Regions from separate parts of the Homo sapiens genome. Here region 2 is linked to region 1. The links come from fine-mapping of genetic effects on gene expression. A gene starts in region 1. The other region holds a variant in brackets. All regions are shown on one strand. Distances are between the middles of the regions. Region 1 holds the start of CLEC3A (C-type lectin domain family 3 member A). Region 2 has its middle 22 kb from the start of WWOX.

Region 1 (5,383 bases):
CACGAGCCACCACACCTGGCCCATAACTTGAAATTTTTTTAAAAGGATTTAGGAAGATGGCAAAGAAAATTTTTGATCAATTGTAAGATCAGGTGTAAATCATTGATCTTTTCCCCTGTTCAAACCAAAGCACATTTTCACAGCCCAGGTCTTCTGGAGTTAATCAAAACTGGATTGTAATTTCTACTCAGTTCCTTGAGATCTTAGTGATGTTAGACAAAAACCACTTAACTTTTGAGGCTCAATCACCTTTAAAATGGAGATAATATTATTACTTATCCCACAGGCTTGCTGTGAAGACTAAAAAGATGGCATTCCATAAATTGTATGTACCATTGTAATTAATGGTAAGGATCTTATTATTAAATACTGGACATTGCGCTAAGTGCTTCATAGCCATTATCTCATTTAATCTTTCCAACAGCCCTGTAAAATAAGCATTCCTAGCCCCCACTGTTAAGATGAGAGAAGCCTTATAGAGGTTTATTGACTTGCCTGAGATCACACAGCTAAGCGGTAGGTTGTGAACTGAGCTCAGCCTGTCTTCACAATGTTCTCAAATGCCCATGCATTAACTGCCCATGTTGGTACAAAGAGTCAACACCGGAGGTCAGATCTTTAATTGTACAGTTACTTTGCTGAATCATGTCAGACTTTCCTACATCAGTGGTCTTACTATGGTCTTACTATATTGGTAGGTTACAAAATGGCTTTAACTTGGAGGAAATGAAGATGAAATAGACTGTGGTTTTTCTCATTAAGATTCAGAAGGAAGCACTCATTCCTTGATTCTTTCTGTATTGTCTCAAAGAAAAAACAAAGGCAAAATGAACTTGGTCCTTCAGACCTTCCAAATCTGCAACCACTGCCCTCCATTTGCACCTGGTCAGCCAAATAAGCATGTGGAATGCAGGAAGGCCTTTCCCTGGGTCTAAATTCCTCCCTCTCGGCTATTCCTGTAATGCAAGTCCATTGCTTTTGATGCAAAAGCCTATCAGGTCCCGAAAACTTGCCCTTAAAGCCTATGGTTAAAGGTAGGAATAATTGAGTTTCTCATTACATTAATTTTATTTTTATTTTTTATTTGAGAAGGAGTCTGGCTCCGTCGCCCAGGCTGGAGTGCTGTGACAAAATCCCGGCTCACTGCAACTTCTGCCTTGTGAGTTCAAGCGATTCTCCTGCCTCAGCCTCCAGAGTAGCTGGGACTACAGACTCCTGCCACCACGCCCAACTAATCTTTTTGCGTTTTTTAGTAGAGACAGGGTTTCCTCATGTTGGCCAGGCTGGTCTCGAACTCCTGACCTCAAGTGATCCACACACCTCAGCGTCCCAAAGTGCCGGGATTACAGGCGTGAGCCACCACGCCCGGCGAGTCTCTCACTAGGTTTCTGTGCTATTACATCATGCACTTGAAAGTGTTGTTTAATGTGTTCAAGGAAAAATGATTGGTGAGGACCTGAAAAAATAGCTATTGATCTATTACATTAATTCTTATTCTAATGGAAATAATTCACTTTTTAAAATTTTCTTTTCACTGTAAGGTACATTTTCCCAAGAAAGTAATTTGCCCGGGCTGGAGGGCAGTGATCTCGAACTCCTGGGGCTCAGGTGATTCTCACACCTCAACCTCCCAGGTAGCTGGCATTACAAATGTGTGCCACCATGCCTGATGAATTTTTTTATTTTTTTGTAGAGATGGTGTTTCGCCATGTTGCCCGTGCTCTTCTCGAACTCCTGACCTCAAGGGATCCACCCACTTCGGCCTCCCACTGGGACTACAGGTGTGAGCCACCACATGCAGCCCCAAGGAAGTAATTCTTGATGAGTCTACAAAATCCTAATGGAGGAAAGCCCTATATTTTATCATCGAGTATCTATTTCCGCAATCTCCATAAATCCCACTGAGAAAACTACTTCCAAGCTACACTTGAGCTGCGCAGACACATGAGTATGAGTAGACACACTGGCTTGAATGGTGCTGTGGCACCACACACACACACACACGCAGTAACTTTCCTTTTTCTCCAATTTTTTTTTTGCCCTGAAAACTAAATTGAATCCATTTTCCAGAACATTTAGTGAATTTCAGAGTTCCAAATCAAAGAATTTTTCACAAAGACCCCAATCTTCTCAGAGTTTAAATTTAAAAAAAGAAAGCAGGCTAAACCTGTAGTTAAGTTTGACACACTCCAAAAAGGCAAATCACTAGGAAATGCAGCAGAAATTAAATAAATAGAAAGCCTAACATGAGGCACAAGAACAAGAGGCCACCTTATGCTGTGGCCAGCAGAGGCATTCAAACATTCCGTCAGCAGGATTCCAGCCAACCTCCGAAGCTCACTTTTATAAGCCAGCCCCAGGCATCCCAGAGCAAGATGTAGCTGTGTAGTCTCCTTCCATAGCTGCTCTAAGGGGGCTGGCAACATGGCTCAGCAGGCTTGCCCCAGAGCCATGGCAAAGAATGGACTTGTAATTTGCATCCTGGTGATCACCTTACTCCTGGACCAGACCACCAGCCACACATCCAGATTAAAAGCCAGGAAGCACAGCAAACGTCGAGTGAGAGGTAATGGGGCTTCTCAATCAAGCAAAATTCTAGGCTTAGACAGTGTGGGGAGGTGCTGGACAATGTTAATTTTCAAACTCCTCCAGGAGACTATCTTCGGTGATGGCACCATGCCATCATCCCTATATGGCATTTCAGGGGATTAAGTGAACTTGTAATGCTCTGGGATAGTTTATTTTAAAGAAACCAGGCTGCTGGGTTTTAAAAAAAAACAACAGGGAAAAAATTTGATAGTAAAAGAATTCTGTGTTGTATATTTTTTGTTAGGTGGGCTTAAATAGAATGTGCTTCAGAGGAAGCTCAAGTGGATTTCTGAAAATCTGGTGTTATTAATATGGGGCAAGAAGAATGTATTAACTGAGCACACTGTTTCACTAGTAGATATTGAGTAACTCAATTCAGTTATATTTTAAGATAACTATAATCTTATTCAATGTGTAGCAGAGGATAGAGATTTTGGTAATGGTGACTTCCTGTTTTGTCATTAGTTATCATTAGCTGTATTTCCATATCCTTGGCAGCATAAGGACAACCTATACCATATATTTAAACTTTTTCATGTCAGAGACATTGAATCTCTCCAACTTAAAAAAGTCAATATGCAAAGTCATCTAGTATTTGAAGGCATTGTGATGCAAAACTGAATCTCCCAGGAACCTCAAATTTTGAGTGACTTGAATTGGGTTAACAGGTTAAAGAAATTGAAAAGAACAATGATGATAGCGAGGTGTTTGCAATACGTTGAAACCTAAGCAAAAGAAAAAAACAAGACAGAGGGTCATGTTTTATCACATCCTCTGCATCATTTTCATTTCAGGATATTTCAGATTATGACTATTTCCTTATTTTCACTCCATTAGTAACAACACACACATACACAAATTTCAGCAAGGTTACAGTCTATTTCACATGACAGATGGCTGGTGGGTAAAAAGGGGTCTTGTGCTTTAAGGATTATAAAGTACCATTTTTTCAGGGACATTTATTTACAAAATTTAGGTCTGGTGCAAGGTTTCTTTTTTTTTTTTTTTTCTGAGACAGAGTCTCGCTCTGTCGCCCAGGCTGGAGGGCAGTGACACAATCTTGGCTCACTACAAGCTCCACCTCCTGGGTTCACGCCATTCTCCTGCCTCAGCCTCCCAAGTAGCTAGGACTACAGGCGCCTGCCACCACGCTCGACTAATTTTTTGTATTTTTAGTAGAGACGAGGTTTCGCCGTGTTAGCCAGGATGGTCTCGATCTCCTGACCTCGTGATTCGTCAGCCTCGGCCTCCCAAAGTGCTGGAATTACAGGCGTGAGCCACCGCGCCCGGCTAGTGCAAGGTTTCTTAAGTGGAATCTTTTTTCCTTAAGAAATACTGTACTTCTTTCGGTGAAAGATTAAAATATTTCTCATGAGTAGATGAAACATATTGCTGAAGATGGTATCGAAAGGAGAGGGGAGAGAGAAGATACTGGGTGACATGGTACATTTCTGTAGCCAGCGTTTCTTCACTGCTGGATGGAGTGGCACTCCTCGTGAGAGTGGCGATCACCCAGTAGGAATGTGTGAAGAGGGTCTGAACATGACTGAGTGTGCATGTGGGTGCTGTGTGGGTGTTTCTGAAGTAATCGCAGCTTAGGTCACATCCAGGTTTTCCAGGGGCCTCCCTCCCCTTCCTCCTCCCACTCTCTTCTCTCTCCCTACCTTCTTTCCCACTTCTTTACCCCCTTCTTCCCCACTGCCTCTGTCATAACCACATGTGCATGCACATGCTTTTATTTAAAAACAAAACAAAACAAAACTGACTAGGTACACACCTCTTAAATGTCATTCCCCCAGTATAGTTTTTGCTACTTTTTGCCATTAGGTCCTAGAAAGTAGATTCTACAGTAGGTGAAGCAATAAACCTAAACCGATCAAGCAATTATATCCCCACCCATCCATATACTTTTAAAATAGTTTAAGTACCTTGAAATATAATAATACCAGTGTTAAAGAGATCAAAAGTGAAAGCCATCTTCTCTCTCCCAATCCTCACCACAAAATTATCCACTATTAACTATCAGGTAATACTATTCCCAGAAGTTTTGTGTTTTGTTTTTTGTAGGATTGTTTGTTTTGAGACAGAGTCTCACTCTGCCACCCAGGCTGGAGTGCAGTGGTGTGATCTCGGCTCACTGCAACCTCTACCCACCAGGTTCAAACAATTCTAGTACCTCAGCCTCTCAAGTAGCTGGGACTACAGGTGCTCGCCACCATGCCCAGCTGATATTTGTACATACATCTTTTTTAGTATAGATGGGGTTTCACCATGTTGGCCAGGCTAGTCTCAAACTCCTGACCTCAGGTGATGGGATTGCAGGCATGAGCCATCATACCCAGCCTATTCCCAGAGTTTTTAAAATGCACAATTAAAATACATATTTTTAACAAAATAAGAATTGGCTATGCAGAATGTTTGGCTAGGCAAATAAATTTATTTCATCTATTAAACCTTGGATAGTTACCAGTGTAAGCAATACTTTATTCATTTTAACAGCTGCATAATATTCCATTGTTTGGATGGGTCATCACTTAATCTGATCTCTCCCAATACATCTCTTTTTGATTCAATAGCCCCAAGTAACTGCTTTGCACACATACTGCTCCCCATGTTAGGATGTTATGAGACATTTCCAGAAGTAAAATTGCAGGTTAATTATACTTTCTAATTGTCCCTCCAAATGATAACACCAATCCATCTTCCCATCTTCTGTGTATGGGAGTGCCCATTCCTATGTATTTTGACAGTCCAACATCATATAATGGTTTTACTGGCCATGTCTTCTGGGAAT
Region 2 (5,383 bases), 55 kb after region 1:
AAAATGCATGTCCACATCCTAAGCCCTAGAACCTGTGAATGTGATCTTACTTGGGGGAAAAAAAAGGTCTTTGAAGATATAATTATGTTAAGAATCTTAGATGATATCACCCTGGATTACCTGAGTAGGCCTTCAATCTAATGACAAGTATCTTTTTAAGCAACAGAAAGGAAAAGCCATTGAAGATGGAAGCAGAGATTGGGGTGATGCGGCAATGAGCCTGGGAGCCACCAGAGGCTGTAAGAGGCAAGGAAAGATTACCTTCTAGAGCCTTCAGAGGGAGCAGAGTGTGGCCTTGTTGATACCTTAACTTCCGACTGACTTTTGACTTTCAGAACTATGAGAAAATAAATTAGTTGTAAGCTGCCCAATTTGTGACACTTTGTGAGGCTAACTCAAGGACACTAATATGTTCAATAATTTGGTAGTATGAATGAATGAGTAAATGAACGAGCTCCCAGCGTGTGGCAGGCACTGCACTGGGTACTGAAGACATAATGACAAACAAGACAGACGAGCAGTGTCATGTTGGAGATTCAATTCTAGAGGGGAAGACAGACAATAAAACTGCAAATGATGAATAAGATGTTAGTGATATTTCTCATAGTGGTTTCCTATGAAAGAAATAAATAGGGTGACAAAGGTATTTGAAATGGTGAGAGGGCTGGGGAGCTGGTGATTGGTGCTGTTTCCTGAATAGTTCCAACTGCCTGCCTTCTGGTCCCTTCATAGGATTGTGCTTCCTTGGCCCCTTGTGGTTGGGTAGGGCTATGAAACTTGCTCTCACCAATGCTTTGTGAATAGAAGCGACAGGTCATTTAATCACCATTGTGAGACCCTCCAGAGCTCTCTTTCTTTATGCCATGGCAATTAGCAACCAGCATCACTTGAAAGAGCAGCCGTTCCACCATGCTGGGTTCCAGAGGCAGTAAATGTGGGCCAACGCTCCCAGACAACACCCAATATTCATGCATGGGATTCATGCATTTTGGGACAGAATCAACAGGGTCAAGCTTGGCTGCTGGGTGTGTAGCATTTGGAGCTCGGAGTATGGTGGTGCCATTTCCCAACAGGGAAGTCTGGAGAAGACTGGCCTCTCACGGGCTGCCACACTGCATAGTGCTGGAGGGGCAGCCTTACCCCAGAGGCAGGGCAGGCAGGGATGTGACATTGAAGAGGACACTAACTGGTCCAATGGTTACCTTGATCTGCTGACCATTGCCTCACTCTAAATAACAATTGGCACTTTTAAGCTGGGCGCAGTGGCTCACGCCTGTAATCCCAGCACTTTGGGAGGCTGAGGCGGGTGGATCACCTGAGGTTAGGAGTTCGGGACCAGCCTGGCCAACATGGTGAAACCCCGTCTCTACCAAAAATGCAAAAATTAGCCAGGCGTGATGACAGGCCCCTGTAGTCCCAGCTACTTGGGAGGCTGAGGCAGGAGAATCGCTTGAATCCAGGAGGTGGAAGTTGCAGTGAGCCAAGATTGTGCCATTGCACACCAGCCTGGGTGACAAGAGCAAAACTCTGTCTCAAAAACAAACAAACAAAAATTGACACTTTTTGGTGTCATCTAAGGTTTTCACATTTATTAATGCCCTAACTTTCCTTAATCAATAAAAAAAATTGGTTCTTTTTTCTTTTTAAGACAGAGACTCCCTCCATTAGCCAGGCTAGAGTGCAGTAGTACAGTCAGGGCTCACTGCAACCTCTGCCTCCTGGGCTCAAGTGATCCTCCCGTCTCAGCCTCTCAAGTAGCTTAGACTACATGTGGGAACCGCCATGCCTGAATAATTTTTATAATTTTTGTAGAGATGGGTATTTGTCATGTTGCCCAGGCTGATCTCAAACTCTCAGACTCAAGCGATCCACCCACCTTTGCCTCCCAAGTGCTAGATTACAGGCATGATAGATATGAACCTCCATGCTCAATCTAGTTCTTTTTTTTTTTTTTTTTTGAGATGGAGTCTCATTCTGTCACCCAGGCTGGAGTGCAATGGCACGATCTCAGCTCACTGCAACCACCACCTCTCGTGTTCAAG[C/T]GATTCTTGTGCCTCAGCCTCCCAAGTAGCTGGGATTACAGGTGCCCGCCACCATGCCCAGCTACTTTTTGTATTTTTAGTACAGATGGGGTTTCACCATGTTGGCCAGGCTGCTTTCAAACTCCTGACCTCAGGTGATCCACCCACCTTGGCCTCCCAAAGTGCTGGGATTATAGGCGTGAGCCACTGCACCTAGTTCTTTCAAATGGCTCAATATATTATACTTATTGTATTATTGTTATATTCTAGTACTATATATTACATATTTCTCTCTTCTTGCCTATTGAATATAAATATTCCAGTTGCTCTATAAAAAGATTTTTAAAACCATCAAGGCAGCCTGTGAATTCCTTGTATTTGTGATCAGGTAAAATAATGCCAGTATACCACTACCAGTGCCTGGCACTGAAACACAAAATAAACACTATGTACGTAATGTTACTTGCTGCTATTATTGTTGTTATATGGTAAATATTTTGACTTGGTATCTTGTAATGTTCACCTTCTTTTGGTTTTTATATTAGTCACTAAATCTGTGTAATCTGACTTCTTTTAAATTTCTGAAAATGAGGGCATTAATATTTGAATTACAGTGAAAGTAACTATGAGGCCCCTTTTTTTTATTTTTTGTCTGCAGTGAATTACTGACTTCAGTGGATTTAATCAGCACTCCATTGCCATCTGAATGACCCTGAAAAATAGGAATGTTTTTAAGGCAAATTGCACTTTTCTTCCATGGCTACACACAGTATTTGGATGCCAATATTTCTTCTAATGAGTTTCTGCATGTTACTAGCCTATTGATGCACAGTGAGGGTGGATGGCAGGCATTCTTGGGTGCTTATAAAACTCCTCTTCTCACCCCAGCATCAGCAAACACACAGGCACACGCATGCACACACACCCAGCATCTTTTGTGCCAATGCAGTCATGACTGCATTCATGGGCCAGGGAAGCGGTAAAACTGGGCTCCTTCCTGGACTCAATACTGAGTCTGGTTTAGTCTAAAGTGATCATCAGAATGCCATCGCCCTTGCCAATGATCAAGGATGAGTGTGTTGCAAAATTCTGGCCAATGAAGGGTGTACAGGGAGATTTCTTTCATTCTTGAGCAAGGGCACAAGGAAGGAATGTTTTTCTGCTCCTGGATATAATCTTCTCACCTTGGAATTAAGGTCAGTATATTAGGAACCATGAGTGGAGCCAGCTGATGCCCTGAAGAGAATAGCAGAATGAAAAGATTAAAAGAGCCTGGATTAGCCAGGCATGGTGCTGCATGCCTGTAGTCTCAGCTACTTGGGAGGCTGAGGCAGGAGGATCACTTGAGCCCAGGAGTTTGAGGTTGCAGTGAACAGTCATCATGGCATGGCAGTCCAGCCTGAATGACAGAGCAGGGCCCTGTGTAGAAAAAAAAAAAAAAGAAAAGAGCCTGGGTTCTGGAATTAACCAGCCCTGAAACCACTCTAAGTCAGGAGTTCTGATTATAAGAAATACTTTTGTCTTAACTGTATAAGCCACTTATAGTTGCAGCTTGCTAACCAGCATCTCCGAGCAGAACATGCCAGGTGATAGAGTATCTGCATCATTTCAAACTTCTCTTCAGAAAGCTGTCATTCACTCAGCAAATATTCACTAAGCACCTATTATTTGCCAGGCAATTTACTAGGTACTGGGGATTACAGTGATGACTAAGACATGGTCCCTGTCTAAAGTCACTAACATTCTGTTGGGTGAAACAGACATTAAATGACTAACACACTTAAAATATTTTTTTTCAACTAAAATAAAGATAAATGCTATAAGGAGACATATAGGGTAATAAATAAACCATAGCAAAGGTTCTGGAGGGCCTGTGAAGGCTTCCAGGGGAAGCTGTATTTGTGCTGAGCCTTGACTAGGCTCAGGTCTTGACTAGGGCCAGGAGGAATGGGTTGCCTTGAATGAATTGGACTAATGGTGAATTAATTCCTATGTCAGGGCACACATTAGTCCATTCTCATACTGCTATAAAGAAATACCTGAGACTGGGTAATTTATAAAGCAAAGAAGTTTCATTGGATCATAGTTGCACAAGTTCCGTACATCATGTCCATTTTCTAGTAAAGAGGAAAGGTGGGGTGAGACAGGTATGTACTTCACTTTGAAGACACTTCTCTTAGCCGGGCATGGTGTCTCATGCCTGTAGTCCTAAGGCATGAGGTGGCACTCAACTCTAGAGGTGGGCTCGAACACTGGACCAAATTGAGGACTAGCTAAATCAGGGAGGGGGTAGAAGCAGCTTTCCATAAGACATGCCCACCAGTGTGCCATGTCAGTTTACCATTGCCATGGCAATGCCTGTGAGTTTCCCTTTCCATGGCAACAACCCAATGACCCAGAAGTTACTACCCTTTCCCTAGAAATTTCTGCATAAACTGCTTCTTAATCTGCATGCAATTAAAAGTAGGTATAAATATGAATGCAGAACTGCCCTGAGCTGCTACTTTCTGCCTATGGCATAGTCCTGCTCTGCAGGGGCAGTCACAGAGCTGCAACACTGCCGGAGCTATAACACTGCTGCTTCAGTAAACTGTTTTCTTCTACTCTACTAACAGCTTACCCTTAAATTCTTTCTTGGGTGAAGCCAAGAACTCTTGCAGGCTAAGCCCCAATTTGGGGCTCACCTGTCTTCCATCAGTCCCAGCTACTTGGGAGGATGAGGCAGAAAGATCACTTGAAGCCAGGAGTTCGAGGCTGTAGTGAGCTATGATTGCACCACTGCCCTCCAGCCTGGCCAACAGAGGGAGACCCTGTCTCAAAAAAGAGTAGACCCTTCTCTTCTAGGTTTTTATAATCACATGTCTTTTATTCAAGATATTAATCTCTATTAGGGATAGAGGTTATCTAGGTTTAGTAAGCTATTTTAATATCTAGTTTTATGGCTAACCAGATCCTAATTAATTTACCTTTATTAAACAAATGCTAGAAATGTTCTTAGCTTTTCAGTCTGAAACACCTAGCACTGTGGCCAGCTCTTACTAGGATGCTAGCTCCAAGATTAGCTGTGGGAAGAACCACAACCGTGTAATTTCATCTCCTTCATTCTTGATGTGCTTGTCAGCATAATGGAGGCGGGAGAGCCTCTCTAAATGGTGGCTGGGATATGCAATGAGGTACTGTATATAAGCCCAGGCAGCATAAGTTCTCTCCCAGATGCTAATCTCTTTTCATCTCTTTACCCTTTTGCAGGCCTCTAAGAGTACCTACGGCACACTAGCAAAGGGCAGTAAGGATCCTTTGTTTGGAAACAGCATTTTGCAGTTTACAAGTTCACAAAATCTCTTTTGGAGCCTGTGAAGTAC

What was found. PIP is the estimated chance that this variant, and not a neighbour inherited with it, causes the effect.
Region 2: its variant is the best candidate, but not a certain one, in a credible set for the expression of CLEC3A in coronary artery (GTEx, PIP 0.60).

Annotation. Positions count from the first base shown.
Region 1 is chr16:78,020,176-78,025,558 of GRCh38, forward strand. CLEC3A (C-type lectin domain family 3 member A) reads left to right here and starts at 2,373. Exons shown (of 3, transcript NM_005752.6): 1 at 2,373-2,566. The coding sequence starts at 2,452. RefSeq lists an enhancer at 8-177.
Region 2 is chr16:78,075,213-78,080,595 of GRCh38, forward strand. No RefSeq gene overlaps it. Among named protein-coding and RNA genes, the nearest start is that of WWOX, 22 kb to the right of the region's middle. The variant C/T (reference allele first, on the strand shown) is at 2,043.